2 linked regions of the Homo sapiens genome follow. The protein of the gene in region 1 purifies or fractionates together with the protein of each later gene. This does not show direct contact. Each region holds a gene or a part of one and is shown on either strand. Other genes may lie near its edges.

Region 1 (3,500 bases):
AGCGTCTCCTTGGTATAATTATAGTGTTCCTGGACCTTGTTGGGGTTCAGGTACTCCGAGTACAAGCTGCCCATGGTGGGGCTCAGAGGCCTGCTGGGGCCATGGGGCTTTCAGAACTGCAGAGAAGACAGACAGACAGACAGACAATAGGTCAGAGCTGTGGCTGCTACCTGGGCTCTGGCCTCGGATGGGCTGAGATTCAATTTCCTGCTCTGTTACTCTTCGAGGAAGGGCCACATGAATTCAGAATCATCATCATCCCCACTTACAGACGGGAAACCCAGAGAGATTAATTCACTTTCCTAAAGTCTCAAATTTAACCAGCGGCAGGGCCAGAGAGACTGGCTCTGCGGCCTCTATAAGCCCTAGGCTACGCTCTTTCTTATTTATTTTATTTATCTATATTTTAAAGACAAGGTCTTGCTCTGTCATTCAGGCTGGAGTGCAGTGGCGCAATCATAGCTCCCTGCAGCCTTGAACTCCTGGGCTCAAGTGATCCTCCCACCTCAGCCTCCCACCTCAGCTTCAGCTACAAGCACATGCCACCACGCCTGGCTAATTTTTTTTTTTTTTTTTTTTTTTTGAGATGGAGTCTCCCTCTGTTGCCAAGGCTGGAGTGCTGCGGCACGGTCTTGGCTCACTGCAACCTCCTCCTCCTGGGTTCAAGTGATTCTCCTGCCTCAGCTTCCTGAGTAGCTGGGATTACGGGCACCTGCCACCAGGCCCAGCTAATTTTTTTTTTATTTTTAGTAGAGACAGGGTTTCACCATGTTGGCCAGCATGGTCTCGAACTTCTGACCTCATGATCCGCCTGCCTCGGCCTCTCAAAGCGCTGGGATTACCAGTGTGAGCCACCGGGCCCAGCCGCCTGGCTAGTTTTTTTGTTTTTTAGAGATTGGGTCTCACTGTGTTGTCCAGGCTGGTCCTGAACTCCTGGCTTCAAGCAATTCTCCTCGGCCTCTCAAAGCAATGAGATTACAGGTATGAACCATGACATCTTGCCTCTTTTAATTTTCATTATTATTTTCTAGAGATAGGGTCTTGCTCTGTCACCCAGGCTGGAGTGCAGTGGCATGATCATAGCTCACAGTTGTCTCTACTCCTGGGCTCAAGTGATCCTCCTGCCTCAGTCTCCTGAGTAGCTACACGCTTTCAAAGGGAAAGAAGCTCCCCCAAATGGCATGAAAAATATAATGTGGACTTCCAGAAACCTTGCCCACCTACCCAGAGAGCAAGCCCTAGGCAGGTCCTGGAGGGTTTGTCTCTTTTCTGGAACACACAGGCGCCTGCGCCCTCATGCTGACCTGGGTCAGGGAGAGTCTCACCACTGATAGCTCCGTGCCCTGCTCATTCATTACCACCCACTAACGCTGGATTTCAGGCTGGGTCTAAGCCTTGAGGCCACGGGTGCTCCCAAGATAAGGTCTTGGGGAGACACCAGGGCGGCCCTGAGATTCAAACATCCCAGAGGTCACACCATCTTCAAGGACACAGACCTTGAAGGCAATCCAGAATTTGCTCCCATTCCACCTCTGAAACACTGGGCAAGTCCCTAGACGCTGTCTCAGCCTGAACCTCCTTATCTGTGCAATAGAGAGAAGAAAGCCCACTTCATGGGGGTGATGGGAAAATCCTTTTAAATGACGCATGAGGCACGTTTAGCTCATAGTAAGCACTCAACAAATACTGCCAAATGTTATTAGCTCCCCTCTTTCCTCCAGTCCTTTGGGAAGGGAAGGGATGTAAGCCAACCAGACGAGATCTCCAACAGCCTGTTCTCATCAGCACCATCTAGCTCTGCCCTGGGACAGAAGGTCCTGCCGGGATGGGCAGGGCGCTGGCACCCCCTCCCCAGCCAGGATGAAATCCAGATGTGAGGCCCCTGGAACAAACAGGGTGGAGTCCTCACTCTGCAGTCACATCCGGTGTGAGGAAGGCGGGATGTAGGGGGAGTCAGGATGGGAGAGACCCCATCTGGGAGGTCCTGGCTGGGAGGATGGGGCAGCTTTGCTGAAGTCATGTGAGCCGTGAAGGGGTGTGCAGCCCCGCCGGGAGGGGGTAAGGCATTTGTTCCATGAAAACCTGAGTCACCCCCCCAACCCCCTCCCATCCCTCCCCTCCACCCTCTTCCATCCCTCCCTCTACCCCCTCCCATCCCCCCCCATCGCCACCCACCAAGGAAAACTGAGCCGTGGTGGGAGGGGGCGGGGAGAGGCGCTCCTCGGCAGAGAGGATGAGAGGCAGACACCATGGCCTTCCCCCAGCTTGGGGGTAGGGTTAGGGGTTGTCAGAGGCGCCAGTGCAGTGTATGCCTTTCATGAAGGGAGAGGAAGTTCCAGCCTTAGCTAAATGGGAGGGAGGGGGGAGAGTAGGGGGAGTCCTCCTCAGGTCCCTAGAAACACGTCTGGCAAGGACTGTGTGCACCGTTCCAGAAAAGTCTGGTTAGGCCAGTTCTCCTGAGCCCAGGAGTGATGGAGGTTTCCGGAGTCACCCAGCCATCTCAGTCCCTGGCCGCCCCCTCCAAGGGGCATCCTGGCCCCTGGCTGGATAGAGGCAGCTGCTCCCCCAGGGCGGAGGGACATCCGTCCTAGTTTGGGAACAGACAAGGGCTTGTGCACGTCCCCGGGGACTGCTGCCCCTCCCAGATAGCCACACAGAGGCCCCTTGTTCCCTTGCTGGACGCAGCCCCGGGCATCTTGATGCCCTCTGCACGCTGCAGCCAGTCCCAGGCAGGCTTGGGCCCAGGCTGCGGCTGGATCAGACACAGCTGATGGGCCGGAAACAGCCCATGCTCTGATTGGCTCATTTTCAATCCAAGGGCACTGAGCAATTTGCCTATTGGCCCGGGCTTTCCATCTTCTGCCTCTGATTGGTCCAGTTGGGGGCGCTCTACGGCCAGCCCTACCGATGGGGTCCTTTATAGGCGACGGGAGCTCAGGCTTTCTGAGGATAGAGTTAATGCTATGTGGACGTCCCTAGGGGGAGTTTGAACCGCAGCCTGACCTCTGGGTCACCCCGACCAGACACCCCCAGGCTGCCCTGGCCTGCTGGGCCCCTCCTGGGGTTCATAAGTGAGAATCAAGGTCCCTTTCCAGGCCTGGGGAGCACGCTGTGCAGTGCAGCCGCCCCCTCTGCTGCTCACCAAGAGATTTGCTGTGGCTTCCTGGATAAATAAGAAATGTGTTTAGGCCGGGCGCAGTGGCTCATGCCTGTAATCCCAGCACTCTGGGAAGCCGAGGCGGGCCTATCACCTGAGATCATGAGTTCAAGACCAGCCTGGCCAACATGGTAAAACCCCCCTCTACTCAAAAAAAAAAAAAAAAAAAAAAAATTAGCCGGGCATGGTGGTGTGCGCCTGTGATCCCAGCTACTTGGGAGACTGAAGCAGGAGAATCGCTTGAACCCGGGAGGCAGAGGTTGCAGTGAGCCAAGATCGCAGCCATTGCACTCCAGCCTGGGTGACAGAGCGAGACTGTCTCAAAACAAAACAAAACAAAACA
Region 2 (3,500 bases), on another chromosome or scaffold:
TGATGACGATGATAGTGATGGTGATGGTGGTGGTGGTGATGATGATGGTGATAATGACAGTGATGACAGTGATGATGAATGGTGATGATGACGGTGATGGTGACGATGGTGACAATGATGATAATGACGATGATGGTGATGATGACAGTGATGGTGAATGGTGATGACAGCAATGATGGTGGTGATGGTGATGATGATGGGGATGGGGATGATAGTGATGATGATGATGATGATGGTGATGGAGAAAGGTGATGATGACAGTGATAATGATGGTGATGGTGATGGCAATGGTGGTGATGGTGATGATGATGACAGTGATGGTGATGATGATGAGGATGGGGATGACAGTGATGATGGTGATGGTGGTGGTGATGATGATGGTGATAATGACAGTGATGATAGTGACGGTGAATGGTGATGATGACAGTAATGATGATGGTGATGGTGATGATGGTGATAATGATGATAGTGATGATGATGGTGATGACGACATTGATGGTGAATGGTGATGATGACAGCAATGACGGTGGTGATGGTGATGATGATGGGGATGAGGATGATATGATGATGATGATGATGATATGATGATGATGATGATGGTGATGGAGAAAGGTGATGATGACAGTGATAATGGTGGTGATGGTGATGGTAATGATAGTGATGATGATGGTGATGACAGTGATGATGGATGTTGATGATGACAGTGATGATGATGGTGATGGTGATGATGGTGGGGATGATAGTGATGATGATGATGGTGATGGAGAATGGTGATGATGGTGAGGATGATAGTGATGATGGTGATGGAGAATGGTGATAATGATGGTGGTGATGGTGGGGATGATAGTGATGACGATGATGATGACAGTGATGATGAATGGTGACGATAACAGTGATGATGGCGATGGTGATGATGGTGGTGGTGATGGTGATGACAGTGATGATGATGGTGATGATGACAGTGATGATGAATGGTGATGAATGGAATGATGATGATGATAGCGACAGCAATGATGATGGTAATGATGATGATGGGGATGGGGATGATAGTGATGATGATGATGATGGTGATGGAGAAAAGTGATGATGTCAGTGATAATGATGGTGAGGTGATGGATATGATAGTGATAATGATAATGGTGATAATGGTTTTGGGGAGCCAGCAACTGGCCCAGCACAAACCACAGGGGGAAGGAGCTACAGGCCACAGTGAGCCCTTTACACTGCTTGGCGATCCCTGGCCCCAAAACCTGGAATTCCTTACCTGTGCTCTACATCTTCTCCCCCCACTCCCATCCACACTGTGAAAATAATTCTCAAATGCATAACCTTTCACCTTACAATGAGCTCTGAGAATAATCAGCCAGGCCGTATTGTTTTTAGATAAGGTAACAGCATATCACCAAGAACATGTGCTCATAAAAGCAGCAATTCTTTATCCCTGGATGTCTTCAGAAAGAAGAGGGGAAAGCACCTCCTAAGAAATAAGAATAAATTGTACCTGCCAGCATTCCAGCATGAAGGCAAGCAGGGCCTTAGCACCTGCCAGAGCCCTGCGTCTACCTTTACTCGCTGGGAAGAAAGACACAGAGAAGCCACGGCAGCCACATCTCATGTCCCACCCCTGGAGGCTAAGCCCCTGCCAGGCATCCAGGCTGCATCACCAGCACGGGCTCCAAACTGCATGACTGAAGAGTTTCTAATAAAGCACACCTCAACCACTGCTGAGGGATTGGGGGGCGGGGGGACAACCAGTTCTGCCACCCATGGCCCTATCTCAGCCCCTGAAGCTGGGGGCTTTTCTGGACCTCCTACATCCCACACTCATTCTGCCAGGAGTGTCTCCAGCCACACACAGTAAATACGGAAAACTGCATGATGTTAAAAATGATTTTTTTTCAACATAGGTGATCGATTTCGAGAGGTTCTCACTTCTCTCCAAAAATTGATTACAGGGCAGCAAATAGAAAAGATGGGAGTGAAAGGGAGGAGTTGGGGCTGTCATCAATTCTGCTTTCTGGAAACGTCTGTTAAATGCACAGAAAGAAGGCAGAGAGCTGAGCATTTTGCTGCTAGAGAAAAAGAGCGCTGCAGTCGATACACACTGCTGTACAGAACCGCAATTCTGCAAGTGTGCCCAGCAGTCCTCCTCCGGCCTGCCAGCACGAACACTCCCAGACCCGATCCATGCTCTGCACACACTCACAGAGGGAGGGGACCACCAGCTCCGGGCCTCGTTATGCCTGAGGAACAACCTGCAGCTCTCTCTGTGCAACCCCCACCACCAAGCTCAGGGTCTCTGTAGGTGCATCAGGGACCCTGACAGATGCTTCTCAGAAGGCATGAGGCTAGGACAATCCAAAATGGCAGCTCCCCAAACTCCAAGCAGTAACCAGCACTGGCTGCCTTCCGGAAGCCTCCACACGCACAGCAGTCACAGACTCCAGCATCAAATCCCTTGCTACGACAGCCTGGATCAAAACATGCCTCATAAGCCCGAATTTGAAAAGGAATTCTGTACTCAGTGGCAGAGGAGGCACTAGATCCAAGAATGCTTAAAGAGTAATGGCAGCCACCACCACTTATTCCACACGTGACCAGCCAGACTCACCTAGGTACTCACATCTGCGTCCCCATCTACGTCTGAGCTGCGCCTAGAACCCCTTTCTGCACATGACCAAACAGACTCAGAGAACATCACCAGCCAGTAAACAGAGCAAAGACTACAGTTCAAACCCAGTCTGCCACATCTGCAGACCTGGGTTTGAATTGTAGTTCCTGTCAATATCTGAGCTCAGCCTAAAACCCCTTTCTGCACCTGAGCAAACAGATTCAGAGACCATCACCAGCCAATAAACAACAGAGCAAAGACTACAATTCAAACCCCAGTGTCCCTGATCTTTCCAAGGTATTTTGCAAATGAGGTTCTAATACTCCGATTCAAGAATGTCTTGGTTCTTTCCACCATGATTTCTTTCATGGTTTCTGTCCACCATGAGAGTTCTCTACAACCATGGGAGAGAACGGTCATTTGTGATCTACCTGGCGTACAATGGGTATACAATTTCTGTGTCTTGGTTTGTGCATCTGTCAAATGGCATCTCATCCTCTGCTCTCTTCCTCAAAGAGTGAAAATGATCCAAGGTGAGAAATGCATCAGAAATGCACCAAGCCACCCAAGGCCACAGCACCACTGCATTCAACGCCCTCCCCCAGCCCCTTCTATTTACCAGGAGACCTCTCTACACACACACATTGCTTGAACCATCTCTACCTGTTCAGTTGTGGACTAGGTAGGTACTGGGGCAACACTGTGTGAACATGTGTCACACAGCACTCATGCCCTAGAAGGAGCTTCCATGGCTTAGGAAGGGATGACAAGACTCGTACAGGAAAATCTGAACACCAGCCCAGGCAAGGCCATAAAAGGGCATATCATTACTACCAAAACAAGGGCGGAAGAGAAAGTGACCTCGTTTAATTCTTGATCCTTCTACTTT

Evidence for each region. The genes of interacting proteins can lie anywhere in the genome.
Region 2: the proteins of S1PR2 (region 1) and HPCAL1 purify together in Homo sapiens (affinity purification with mass spectrometry; 2 studies listed by BioGRID and IntAct, with this or other methods). This does not show direct contact.

What each region holds. Positions count from the first base shown.
Region 1 is NC_000019.10:10,224,832-10,228,331, forward strand, and holds part of S1PR2 (sphingosine 1-phosphate receptor 2), read right to left. Parts: intron 117-3,500; 5' UTR 75-116; coding exon 1-74. UniProt on the Homo sapiens protein: Receptor for the lysosphingolipid sphingosine 1-phosphate (S1P). S1P is a bioactive lysophospholipid that elicits diverse physiological effects on most types of cells and tissues.
Region 2 is NC_000002.12:10,309,404-10,312,903, reverse strand, and holds part of HPCAL1 (hippocalcin-like protein 1), read right to left. Parts: intron 1,202-3,500; exon of another isoform or gene 1-1,201. UniProt on the Homo sapiens protein: May be involved in the calcium-dependent regulation of rhodopsin phosphorylation.